Regions from separate parts of the Homo sapiens genome. Here region 2 is linked to region 1. A link means that fine-mapping ties the variant in region 1 to the expression of a gene that starts in the linked region. Tissue or cell type: testis. Region 1 holds a variant in brackets; the other region holds the start of a gene. All regions are shown on one strand. Distances are between the middles of the regions.

Evidence for each region. PIP is the estimated chance that this variant, and not a neighbour inherited with it, causes the effect.
Region 2: it holds the start of H6PD, and the variant in region 1 is fine-mapped to the expression of H6PD in testis (GTEx, PIP 0.94).

Annotation. Positions count from the first base shown.
Region 1 is chr1:9,257,144-9,263,042 of GRCh38, forward strand. H6PD (hexose-6-phosphate dehydrogenase/glucose 1-dehydrogenase) reads left to right here. Exons shown (of 5, transcript NM_004285.4): 4 at 4,916-5,185. Among named protein-coding and RNA genes, the nearest start is that of H6PD, 25 kb to the left of the region's middle. The variant G/A (reference allele first, on the strand shown) is at 3,089.
Region 2 is chr1:9,231,830-9,237,728 of GRCh38, forward strand. It overlaps H6PD (hexose-6-phosphate dehydrogenase/glucose 1-dehydrogenase), which reads left to right and starts at 2,945. Exons shown (of 5, transcript NM_004285.4): 1 at 2,945-3,237. RefSeq lists a silencer at 2,798-3,357.

The DNA of each region.
Region 1 (5,899 bases):
CTTTTTTTTTTTTGAGACAGGGTCTCATGCGGTGTTGTCCAGATGGGGTGCAGTGGCAGGTTCACAGCTCACTGCAGCCTTGACCTCCTGGGCTCAAGCAATCCTCCCACCCCAGCCTCCCAAATAGTTGGGACCACACTTGGCTAATTTTTTTTTTTTAATTTTTTGTAGAAACAGGGTCTCACTTTGTTGCCCAAGATGGTCTTGAACTCCTGGACTCTGGGCTCAAGTGATCCTCCTGCCTTGGCCTCCCAAAGTGCTGGGATTACCAGCATGAGCCAGTCCGCCTGGCCTATATCCTATTTTCAAGTTAATTTTTATTTTATCAAAGTAATCATGTTGCTTTCTCACCACATTACGTCTTGGAGGTTTATCCGTGACAATGTGTGGATCTTCATTTTCTCTGCTGTCCACTGTCTGAACGTAGTGCTGTGTTAGGGGCTAGGGATGCAGCAGAGGGCAGATGCCACTCAGATGGAGCCTCCCTCGTAGTGGGGAAGAAAGAGAAACAGGCCTGAATTACAGTCAGCTGGGCTAGAAGAAGCCAGGGCCCCTCAGAAGGGGTAGGCCAAAGCTCCTAGAAGCTGAGCCCTTAAGGATGACTGGGAGTTTGCTGGGTGAACAAACAAATCCCAGGTTAGGGGTCCTACGTGCAGAAGCCTTTGAGAAATGATGGCTCCTCGTGTCTGAGGCCAGGCTCTCTCTGTAGGTGAGGGTGTGAGGAGACTTGGGCATTGGAACTCTCCTGCGAGGTGGTATGCGTTGGAACCCTGATCTCTGGGACTGTCCTGTATATTCGAGTCACCGATAATCAGTGCTCACCGGGGTTCAGCCTCAGAGGAGGGAGTGGAGCGGAGCTCGTGGTTAAGCAGTGTCTGCTTCTGCCCCCGCGCCTGGTCACCTGCCTCCTTCCTCACTCGCGGAGCAGGAGTGATCACGGTGCCTGCGTGCAGGGTCTTTGTGAGTATGGGGAGGAGCGGCGCGGGCCGGGGCTGCTGTCAGCGTTGGTGTTGTTATGCTGGTGTTGTTACGTTGCTATTGTTACACCGGTGTTGTTACGCCAGTGTTGTTATGTTGCTGTTGTTACGCTGGTGGTGTTATGTTGGTGTTGTTACATCAGTGTTGTTACGTTGCTGTTGTTACACCCGTGTTGTTACGTTGTTATACCGATATTGTTACGCCAGGGTTGTTACATTGTTGTTACACCAGTGTTATGTTGTTGTTACACTGGTGTTGTCATTCTTATCCCAGTGTTGTTATGTTGTTATGTCAGTGTTAATGTTGCTGTTGTTATGCTGTTGTTACACCAGTGTTATGTTGTTGTTACACCGGTGTTGTACACCATTGTTATGCCGGTGTTGTGTTGTTACACTGGTGTTATGTTGCTGTTACACCAGTGTTGTTACATTGCTGTTAAGCTGGTGTTATATTGTTATGCTGGTGTTGTAACATTGCTGTTAACACCGTTGTTATGTTGCTGTTATGCCGGTGTTGTGCCAGTGTTATGCCGGTGTTGTTTTGTTGTTGTTACGCTGGTGTTACATTGTTACACCAGTGTTATGTTGTTGTTACACCGGTGTTGTTATGTTGCTGCTGTTACATCGGTGTTGTTACATTGTTATGCTGGTGTTGTTATGTTGTTGTTACACCAGTGTTGTTACATTGCTGTTGTTACTCTGGTGTTGTTATGTTGTTGTTATGCTGGTGTTGTGTTACTGTTGTTATGTTGTTGTTACGCTGGTGTTGTTATGTTGCTGTTGTTACATCGGTGTTATGTTGTTATGCCAGTGTTACATTGCTGTTACGATGATGGTGTTATGTTGCTGTTGTTACACTGATGTTTTTTGTTTGTTTGTTTTTGTTTTTGAGGCAGAGTCTCGCTCTGTCGCCCAGGCTGGAGTGTAGTGGTGCGATCTCAGCTCACTGCAAGCTCTGCCTCCTGGGTTCACGCCATTCTCCTGCCTCAGCCTCCCAAGTAGCTGGGACTACAGGCGCCCGCCACCACGCCCAGCTAATTTTTTGTATTTTTTAGTAGAGACGGGGTTTCACCATGTTAGGATGGTCTCGATCTCCTGACCTCGTGATCCGCCTGCCTTGGCCTCCCAAAGTGCTGGGATTATGGGCGTGAGCCACCATGCCTGGCCACACCGGTGTTGTTATGTTGCTGTTGTTACACCAGTGTTGTTATGTTGTTGTTACACTGGTGTTGTATGGTTACACCATTGTTGCGCCAGTGTTGTGTTGTTGTTACACTGGTGGTGGTGTTACAACAACTTGTTGTTACACCAGTGTTATGTTGCTGTTAAGCCAGTGTTGTTATGTTGTTATGCTGGTGTTGTTATATTGTTGTTACGCCAGTGTTGTTACGTTGCTGTTATGCTGGTGTTATGTGGTTGTTACACTAGTATTATGTTGCTGTTATTCCAGTGTTGTTACATTGTCACACCAGTGTTGTTACGTTGCTGTTACAATGGTGTTATATTGCTGTTATTAAGCTGGTGTTACGTTGTTGTTATGCTGGTGTTGTTACATTGCTCTTAACACCGGTGTTATGTTGCTGTTGTTACGCCAGTGTTGTTATATTGTTGTTACACCGGTGTTATGTTGCTGTTGTTACACTGGTGTTACATTGTTGTTACACCAGTGTTGTTATGTTGCTGTTGTTACGGTGGTGTTATGTTGTTATGCTGGTGTTGTTTTGTTGTTGTTATGCTGGTGTTACGCCGGTGTTATGTTGTTGTTACACCAGTGTTATGTTGCTGTTGTTACGCCAGTGTTGTTACGTTGTTGTTATGCTGGTGGTGTTATGTTGCTGTTGTTACTCTGCTGTTATGTTGTTGTTACACTGGTATTATGTTACTGTTGTTATGTTGTTATGCTGGTGTTGTTGCACTGCTGTTATGCTGGTGTTATGTTGTTACTCCGGTGTTGTTACGTTGCTGTTGTTACGCCGGTGTCGTTATGTTGTTACGCCAGTGTTGTTACGTTGCTGTTAGCTGGTGTTATATTGCTGTTGTTAAGCTGGTGTTATGTTGTTGTTATGCTGGTGTTGTTACATTGCTGTTGACACTGGTGTTGCTGTTGTTAC[G/A]CCAGTGTTATGTCGTTACACCAGTGCTGTTATGTTGTCGTTACGCCAGTGCTGTTATGTTGCTGTTGTTACGCCAGTGTTGTTATATTGTTGTTACACCAGTGTTATGTTGCTGTTGTTACACTGGTGTTGCATTGTTGTTACACCAGTGTTGTTATGTTGCTGTTGTTACGGTGGTGTTATGTTGTTATGCTGGTGTTGTTTTGTTGTTGTTATGCTGGTGTTATGTTGTTACACCAGTGTTATGTTGCTGTTACGCCAGTGTTGTTACGTTGCTGTTGTTACACCAGTGTTGTTACGTTGCTGCTGTTATGTTGCCGTTGTTACTCTGCTGTTGTTATGTTGTTGTTACACTGGTGTTGCACTGCTGTTATTCTGATGTTGTTATGTTACGCCAATGTTGTTATGTTGCTGTTGTTACATTGGTGTTGTTATGTTGTTGTTACGCTGGTGTTGCTGCACTGCTGTTATGCTGGTGTTGTGTTGTTAGGCTGGTGTTGTTATGTTGCTGTTGTTATGCTGGTCGTGCTGCTCCATGTTCTCCAGGTGTTCTTCCCTTTTATCGTCACAGTTACCCCGTACACCTGACAACTGGACATCTGCGCCTGGGGGTCTTCAGCCTAAACACACCTAAACCCTCCACCAAACCCCTCTGCTTCCGCCTCCCCGTGTCTGTGAGCGCCTCCACTGCCCATCCCTCTGCTCAGGCCCCACTTCCAGGGCTCATGTTGGGGGCCTCCATTTTGCTCACACCCACCCCATCTGTCAGCAGGTCCAGTCAATCCTGACTCTGGGGTGCCTCTCCCTCCCCTCCAGCTCCTGTACTGCCCATTAGTCCAGGCCCTGTCGTCTCTGCTGGGCAGCTGTGCAGCCTCTTCCTTGCCTTCCCTGCATCTGCACCCATTCTCCCCCCAAGACCAGGGGTCGATCCCCAATATAGGTCAGGTCTCGTCTTCTCCTGCCTCAGATCCTCCAGTGTCCCCCCTACAACTGATCTTAGAAAAAAGTCCAGCCTCTTCGCCTTATCCTGCAAGACCCCTGATCTCCTCTCCAGCCTCACCGCTGTCCCCACTCTTTGCTCACCTCCATCTGGCCCCCAGCACACCAAGTTCCTTCCTGCCTCGGGGCTTTGGCACCTGAGGGTCCCTGCAGCTGAGATGCTTTCTCCCTGGCTTTTTGCGAGGCTGGCTCTTCAGGTCTCGGAGGGGCCTTTTCATTACCCTCTGTCACAACTGCTCTGTAATTTTGTTTACTTCCTTTTCTCTTCTTCCCACTTTCCCTCCCTCCCACTCCCCTGCACATTGCCTGGCACAGGTGTGCGCCCGGTAGTGAGGTGGCACTTGTTAGTCTCATCCAAGGGCAGGATGCAGGAACAAAAGTCAAGTAACTTACCCAAGATCACATGCTAGTAAGTGGCAGTCATACTCTGGGGTGCTGCAGCCCCCGCCATGGTGCCATAGCCCCCACAGTGCCGAGCCTCCTACTGGCAGTGGCCAGGCAGGGCGGGGCGAGGGGCTGGCCAGTATCTACAGAGGCAATCTGGCCTTTGCTGGGAATAGAGCTTTCTTCATGTGGATTTCTGTAGAGGCTCACGGATTTGACGCCTTCTCTTACAGTAGTTCTCATTGACAGAGGTGGCTTCAAGACTTCCTCCCTCCCTTCTCGTGGTGAGGTTGGCTTTGGTGTGCACCATTTTTATAGGCCCTGTGGACTGGGGGAAGAGGATGCAGGATGAATGTGCGGGCTGGGGTTTTGGTGCACCTCGGGGAGATCTGATGTTCTGGCCTCTCTTTAGATCCTCCCCACTTCTCCACCTCCCTCCACCAGGCCGCACCAGCTTCTATGAGGAGTACGGTGTCATTCGCGACGTCCTCCAGAACCATCTGACGGAGGTCCTCACCCTCGTGGCCATGGAGCTGCCCCACAATGTCAGCAGTGCGGAGGCTGTGCTGCGGCACAAGCTTCAGGTCTTCCAGGCGCTGCGGGGCCTGCAGAGGGGCAGTGCCGTCGTGGGCCAGTACCAGTCTTACAGTGAGCAGGTGCGCAGAGAGCTGCAGAAGCCAGACAGCTTCCACAGCCTGACGCCGACCTTCGCAGGTGGGCCCTGGGGCTGGGCATGGGGCACTGGGCTGCCCACTTCGCCGGGAGCAGCTTTCCAAATGCAGACGCCCTTGGGTGGAGTGGAGGGGACTTGAGGTGGGATTTCCCCCAGGGTGCTCGGAGGCAAGGATGGCATTCCCCTGTCTCCCTGGCCTCCTACCAGCCTAAAGTGGCAGGCCAGCTGGTGGTGCCCTCAGGGCGAAGGACATCCCAATGGCCATGGCCTCGTGTCAGCCCCAGTTCAGTCCCAGATGCTTCCCAAGGGTTTGTCGTGCGAGGCTCAGACAGACCTGGTTCCTGCCTCATAGGGTCTCCCCAGTGAGGCCGCAAGCCTTTTGCCTGGCCACAGCTGGAGACACTTCCAGCGGCCAAGTGCCATGCCAGGGCTGTCCTCTGGGCAGTTCCAGAGACCCAGGGCTTTCTGGGAGAGGCTGGCTCCTCACCAGGTAGCAGCCAGGCAGTAAGAGCCACAGCTGCCTGTTGAGCACGCGCCGTATGCCAGGTGCTTTATAGATGCCTCTCATACAAGCCTCACGCACCAACCACGAGGCAGGGGCCATTAGCCCCGTTTTACAGGTGAGGAAACGTAAGGCTCGGTGAAGTCGTCAGAATGAACCAGGCTTGGAACTTGGGCATGGAATACTGTCAGCCCCTGGCTCTTGCCACCAGGCCTTGTCCCTCCTTGCCAACACCCCACCCACGGGCCTCTGC
Region 2 (5,899 bases), 25 kb before region 1:
TTCACCCTGACTTCTGCCTACACCACAGTTAAAGGGCTAGGAAGAAAAATCCCCAAAAATCCACTTCATAAATAGAGCCCCAGGGCGCTCCTTATAAAGCACGAGATAAACCACAGACAGAATTCTGGTCACAGGACACCCCCTGGACCACCCATGGGGCATCATTCCTTTCTCCCGGCTTCCTTCATTCTCCCGGCTTCCTTCACGGGGTTCTGGGCACACCTGGTCCCTTGTAGCTGCGGTCAGCACGGAAACAAGAAAAGCTTCAGACAGGCAAAGGTGCAGAAACCAATGCCAGGGCCCACAGGGACAAAGTTTTCGATTTTTGTGTTTTGGGTGGCAGTACTCTCACACCAGGATGACTGGGTCTTAGCACGACCTAATCGTCTTCATGATGGAAAGAAAGCAAAGCAACTGATTGCCCAGAGAAAACTGGAAGGTACAGAGGCAGGATGAGACTGAGGTGAAGGTAAGGTGAGGAAAGACAGGCGGAGAAATGAAACATCTCAGGGTGGTGTGGGAGTGGACATAGGGTTGGGAGGGCATTGTGACCCCCTAGGCTAATTCCCCCCTCAGACCCCACCCCAACGTTACCTAATCAGGTGGACGTTTTCTTAGTAAGCAGGTTACAACTGACTTGGTTTGGGGCTTTGTTTTTTTTTCTTTTTTTTTTTTTTTGAGACCGAGTTTCACTCTTGTTGCCCAGGCTGGAATGCAGTGGCGCGATCTCAGCTCCCCGCAACCTCCACCTCCCAGGTTCAAGCTATTCTCCTGCCTCAGCCTCCCGAGTAGCTGGGATTACAGGCATGCGCCACCACACCCAGCTAATTTTGTAGTTTTAGTAGAGACATGGTTTCACCATATTGGTCAGGCTGGTCTCGAACTCCCGACCTCAGGTGATCCACCCGCCTCGGCCTCTCAAAGTGCTGGGATTACAGGCGTGAGCCACCGTGCCTGGCTTTTTTTTTTTTTTTTTTTGACACAGTTTCACCCTGTTGCCCTGGCTGGAGTGCAATGGCGCGATCTTGGCTCACTGCAACCTCTGCATCCTGGATTCAAGCGATTCTCGTGCCTCAGCCATCTGAGTAGCTAGGACTACAGGCACGCCACCACGCTTGGCTTTTTTTTTTTTTTTTGTATTATTAGTAGAGATGGGATTTCATCATGTTGGCCAGGCTGGTCTCGAACTACTGACCTCAGGGGATCCACCTGCCTCGGCCTCCCAAAGTGCTGTGATTACAGGCATGAGCCACTACGCCTGACCTGGGGCTATTTATAAGAAGCCCTCAAGGTAGCAGATCACCCTCTGATGGCCACATGGAGATCTGGGAAACGAACCCCCGGTCATGCCTCTGGACACCTGCCCACTTCTATCTGTGCCTTCCTGGGCCCTGGTTTTCAGAGCTATGTGGGTGCCTGACACACTCAGGGCCACAGAACATGGGAAGGGCTCTAGGCCAAGAGTCCCGGCATCATTCGAGTCTGCTCTGGCCCGCTCCTGCCCTAAGCCCTCCTGCTCACTTCCAGCTGTGGAGGTAGCCCAGAGAGTGCCTGGCTCCCTGGCTCCCCCCTCTGCCAGGCCCACTCAGTGTGACCTAAATCCTTGCCGAGGCTTGGCAGCCCTCTGCGGGCGCCCGGATGGCCTCTGGCCTTGGTGACGGTGAGGCCCAGCTCCCCTCAGTTCCCAGCCTTCCCGGAACCCCTTGCCTAACATCCTGTGTGGTAATCATGCCTGTTGGCCCCATTCAGTCCTGCCGGCCACTGCCAAGTTGCCACTGCTAGTTCCAGACGCTCCCACCTCTAATGGAACCATCGGGAAATAAAAAGCTGCAGCACAGTTTCTCTCTCAGGTCAGAATCTCCTCCCAGCACTTTGGGAGGCCAACGTGGGAGAATCACTTGGGCCCAGGAGTTCGAGACCAGCCTGGGCAACAAAGTGAGACCCCGTCTCTACAAAAAGTTGAAAAATTAGTCAGGAGTGGTGGCGAACATCTGTGATCCCAGTTACTTGGGAGGCTGAGGCGGGAGGATCACTTGAGCCTGGGAGGCGGAGGCTGCAGTGAGCTGTGATAGCGCCACTGCACTCCAGCATGGGTGACAGAGCGAGACCCTGTCTCAAAAAAAAAAAAAAAAAAAAAAAAGAAAAAAAGAAAAGAAAAGAAAGAAAAAAGAAAAAGTGGGGAGCAGGTTGGGGAGCATGGTGAGGGCCACCTACTGCCTGATAATGGTGGGGGACAGGAAGGGGACTGAGTGCTCTGAGAGGCAGCTGATCCCGTTTTCTCACTTAAATACCTCTCACCCTACAGAGAAGCCCTGATTCCATTTGCTGTCTTTCTTAGCAATGTCTTAGCAAAAGTCTTCTATTTGCCACACGGGTCCAAGCTTCCGCTTACTAAGCACCCAAGTGCCAGACAACCCCGGAGGCAGGTACTCCCATTGTCCCCACTGTACAGATGAAGAAACTGAACTCAGGGTCACACAAGTGATAAGGGGTGGCAGAGATCTGAAGCTGTGCGCGGAGGCGTGGCCAGCGTGTGCGCTCCGACTTCTAAATCCCTACTCTGGATATTGAAGACGGGAAAGACCGAGCCGCTCATTCTACAGATGGGGAAAAGCGAGGCCTGAGGAGTCCCAGAGCGGGTGCCAGATCGTAGGGAGCAGCCAGCACCCCGGGTCCCCTCCACGACACAACCACGTCCCTCGGCCACTTCTGGGTCCCGCGCGCGTCTCGGACGCGGCAGGACAGCTCTAGGACGCACGGCCACCAGGGGGCCGAAGGGAAGGGCGGGGGCGGAGGCTCGGAGCTGACCCACCGCCTCGCCCCGGAAGCTCCGAGGCCCCGCCCCGGCGGCCGCCAGCGGAGGGCGTGGCCTCGCCGGCGCCCCCGCCCCGCCCCCGCCCCCGCCGCGCGCGCCCCCGCCGCGCGCGCCCCCGGCCCGGGCCCCAGTCTTGCTGAGCGCAAGGCGGTGGAGGCCTGAGGCCTGAGGCCTGGGGCGGGGTGGCGGCCGGGCTGGCCTTGGCCTCGCGCCTTCCCCTGCGGCCGCCGCGGGCTCCGCGGGCGGTATCGGAGTGTCGTGCGGCGCGTGGCCGCGTGACACGCGCACTTGTCGGAGTGACGGGCCCTGCGGAAGAGGAGGTGCGGCCCAGGGCGCAGGGGAGCCCTCGGGAGCGGGCCCGGCCCTCAGCGCCGCCCCGGCCGTGTCCCGGAGGAGCGGCCTGCGCCGCCGCGCGAGAGGAAGTAAGCGCCCCCCGCCGGCCCCGCCGCCGCCCCGGCCCCGGCGCCTCCAACCCGCGCTGCCGCCGGGCCCGAGGCCGCGCCGAGCCCCGGAGCCTGCGCTGCCAGCCCCACGGAGCCTGGGGCTGGCGGCTTTGGAACTGCTCAGGAGGCGGCCAGGCTCCCTCCAGGGTCGCCCCGAGCGGCCGAGCTGTCCTTTCCCTGGGCTTCCCGGAACTGAGTTCCAGGAGAGGGGGAACTCCGAGATTTCCCCCGGGACCTGCTTAATCTTTGGCATTGATTGGCCCTCGGGTTTCACATAGCGTTTCCCGTACCCGGATCTAGTGAACGGTTTTCCAGGGGCAAACCTCTCTGGATCTCTGAAAATCAGCTCACCCAACCTTGAATGCTTAGCCAGAAGTGAGAACTTCTGGAAAGAAGTGTCCTTGCCCACTCCCCCTGCACCCACAACAGGCCCATGGCTCATGAAAGGCAGCAGATGAGGGAAAACTGGTGTCAAATGGGCATATTTTTTATTTTATCTTTTTACTTTTTTATATAAAAGTAAAAAATCTTTTACTTATAAAAGATGGGGTCTTGCTTGGTTGCCCAGGCTGGAGTACAGTGGCACAAACACGGTTCCCTGCAGCCTCCACCTCTTGGGCTCAGGCCATCGTCCTGCCTCAGCCTCCGGGGTAGCTGGGACCACAGGCGCACACCACCACGCCTGGCTAATTTTTAAACCTTTTGTAGAGACAGTGGTCTCACTATGTTGCCCTGGCTGGTCTCGAACTCCTGGGCTCAAGCGATCCTCCTGCTTAAGCCTTACGAAGTGTTGGGATTACAGGTGTGAAGCACCACGCCCAGACAGCGTATTTTAAATTATGCATCATATCCCTTTAATTTTTCATCATTATGATTGGAAGATCATGAAAAGCTGTCTGAGTTTTTCCTTGGCATTTTTCTGTGGTTGATGGTTAGTTGTTGCCCAAGCTGGAGTGCAATGGCGCGATCTCGGCCCACTGCAACCTTCTCCTCCTGGTTCAAGCGATTCTTCCACCTCAGCCTCCTGAGTGGCTGGGATTACAGGCGCGTGCCACCACACCCGGCTAATTTTATGTATTTTTTAGTAGAAACAGGGTTTCACTATGTTATCCAGGCTTGTCTTGAACTGCTGACCTCAGGTGATCCACCACCTCGGCCTCCCAAAGTGCTGGGATTACAGGCATGAACCACCGCGCCCAGCTGGTTAGTTGGTTTTAACAGCAGTTCAAGAAGCTAGCAAGAAGGACTTCATTCGTGAAGCTAATGGTTTAATGATAGAAACTAACATTTCTGGCCGGGCCCAGTGGCTCACGCCTGTAATCCCAACACTTTCGGAGGCCAGGGCGGGCAGGTCACTTGAAGAGTTCAAGACCAGCCTTGCCAACATGGTGAAACCCCGTCTCTACTAAAAATACAAAAATTTGCTGGGCATGGGGGCAGCGGATGCCTGTAATCCCAGCTGCTGGGGAGGCTAAGGCAGGAAAATCGCTTGAACCGCCCTGCCTCCGGTGACGGAGGTTGCAGTGAACCAAGATCGTGCCACTGCACTCCAGCCTGGGTGACAAAGCTAGACTTCTCCTTAAAAAAAAAAAAAAAAAAAAGCAGCTAGGATTTCTTGGGTGCTTACTGTATGCCAGGCATTGTGCTAAGTACCTTACATGCTTCCCATCGATTTGTTTTCCCATTCTGTGGTTGAGGTACAGAGAGGTTAAATAACTTGTCTGAGGGTACATAGTTACTGAGTGGCAGGGATTTGAATCCAGAATATTCTTATGTAACCAGTTCTCCAAAAACTAGCCCTTGAAGGTCTTCCACGTTTCAACAAAGCAACTGAGGCTTATACATGATGTCTTCATGATGTCAGAAGGAAGAACTGTGAAAGGCAAAGCGGACCCGGGAGGCAGAGGCTGGTTACCGCAGTTAGTGTTCGGAACAGCTTGACTTCATGGAGCAGAGAAACAGCCTGTCTGGTTTAAACCACTGTTCAGTATCTACACTGATACAGTGTAAATGTAATACAGTGTTTTACATTTTGCCATTCAGGGATGTAGTCACATTTTACGGGAAGGTTAGCTCTGGGACCAGACTGCCTGTATTCAAATCCTATCACCTCTAGCTGCTTGACCTTTGGTAAGTTATTTGACTTCTCTTTTTTTTTTTTTTTTTTTTTTTTTTGAGATGGAGTCTTGCTCTGTTGCCCAGGGGCGCAATCTCAGCTCACTGCAACGTTCGCCTCCTAGGTTCAAGTGATTCTGCTCCCTCAGCCTCCCAAGTAGCTGGGATTACAGGCACCTGCCACCACGCCTGGCTAATTTTTGTATTGTTAGTAGAGACGGGGTTTCACCGTGTTGGCCAGGCTGGTTTTAAACTCCCGACCTCCAATGATCCTCCTGCCTCAGCCTCCCAAAGTGCTGGGATTATAGGCGTAAGCCACTGCGCCTGGCCATGTTATTTGACTTCTCTTTGCCTTAGTTTCCTCTCTACTCCCTGCTAAGATGGGGATAATCATGTTACCTACCTCATATGGTTGTGGCAAGATTTAAATGGTGTGATGCATGTCACACCGATAGCCTAGCATTTGGCATATAGTTAAATACTCCATAAATAGCTCTTTTATTATTAAAAGTGTTGTTCCAAGTAG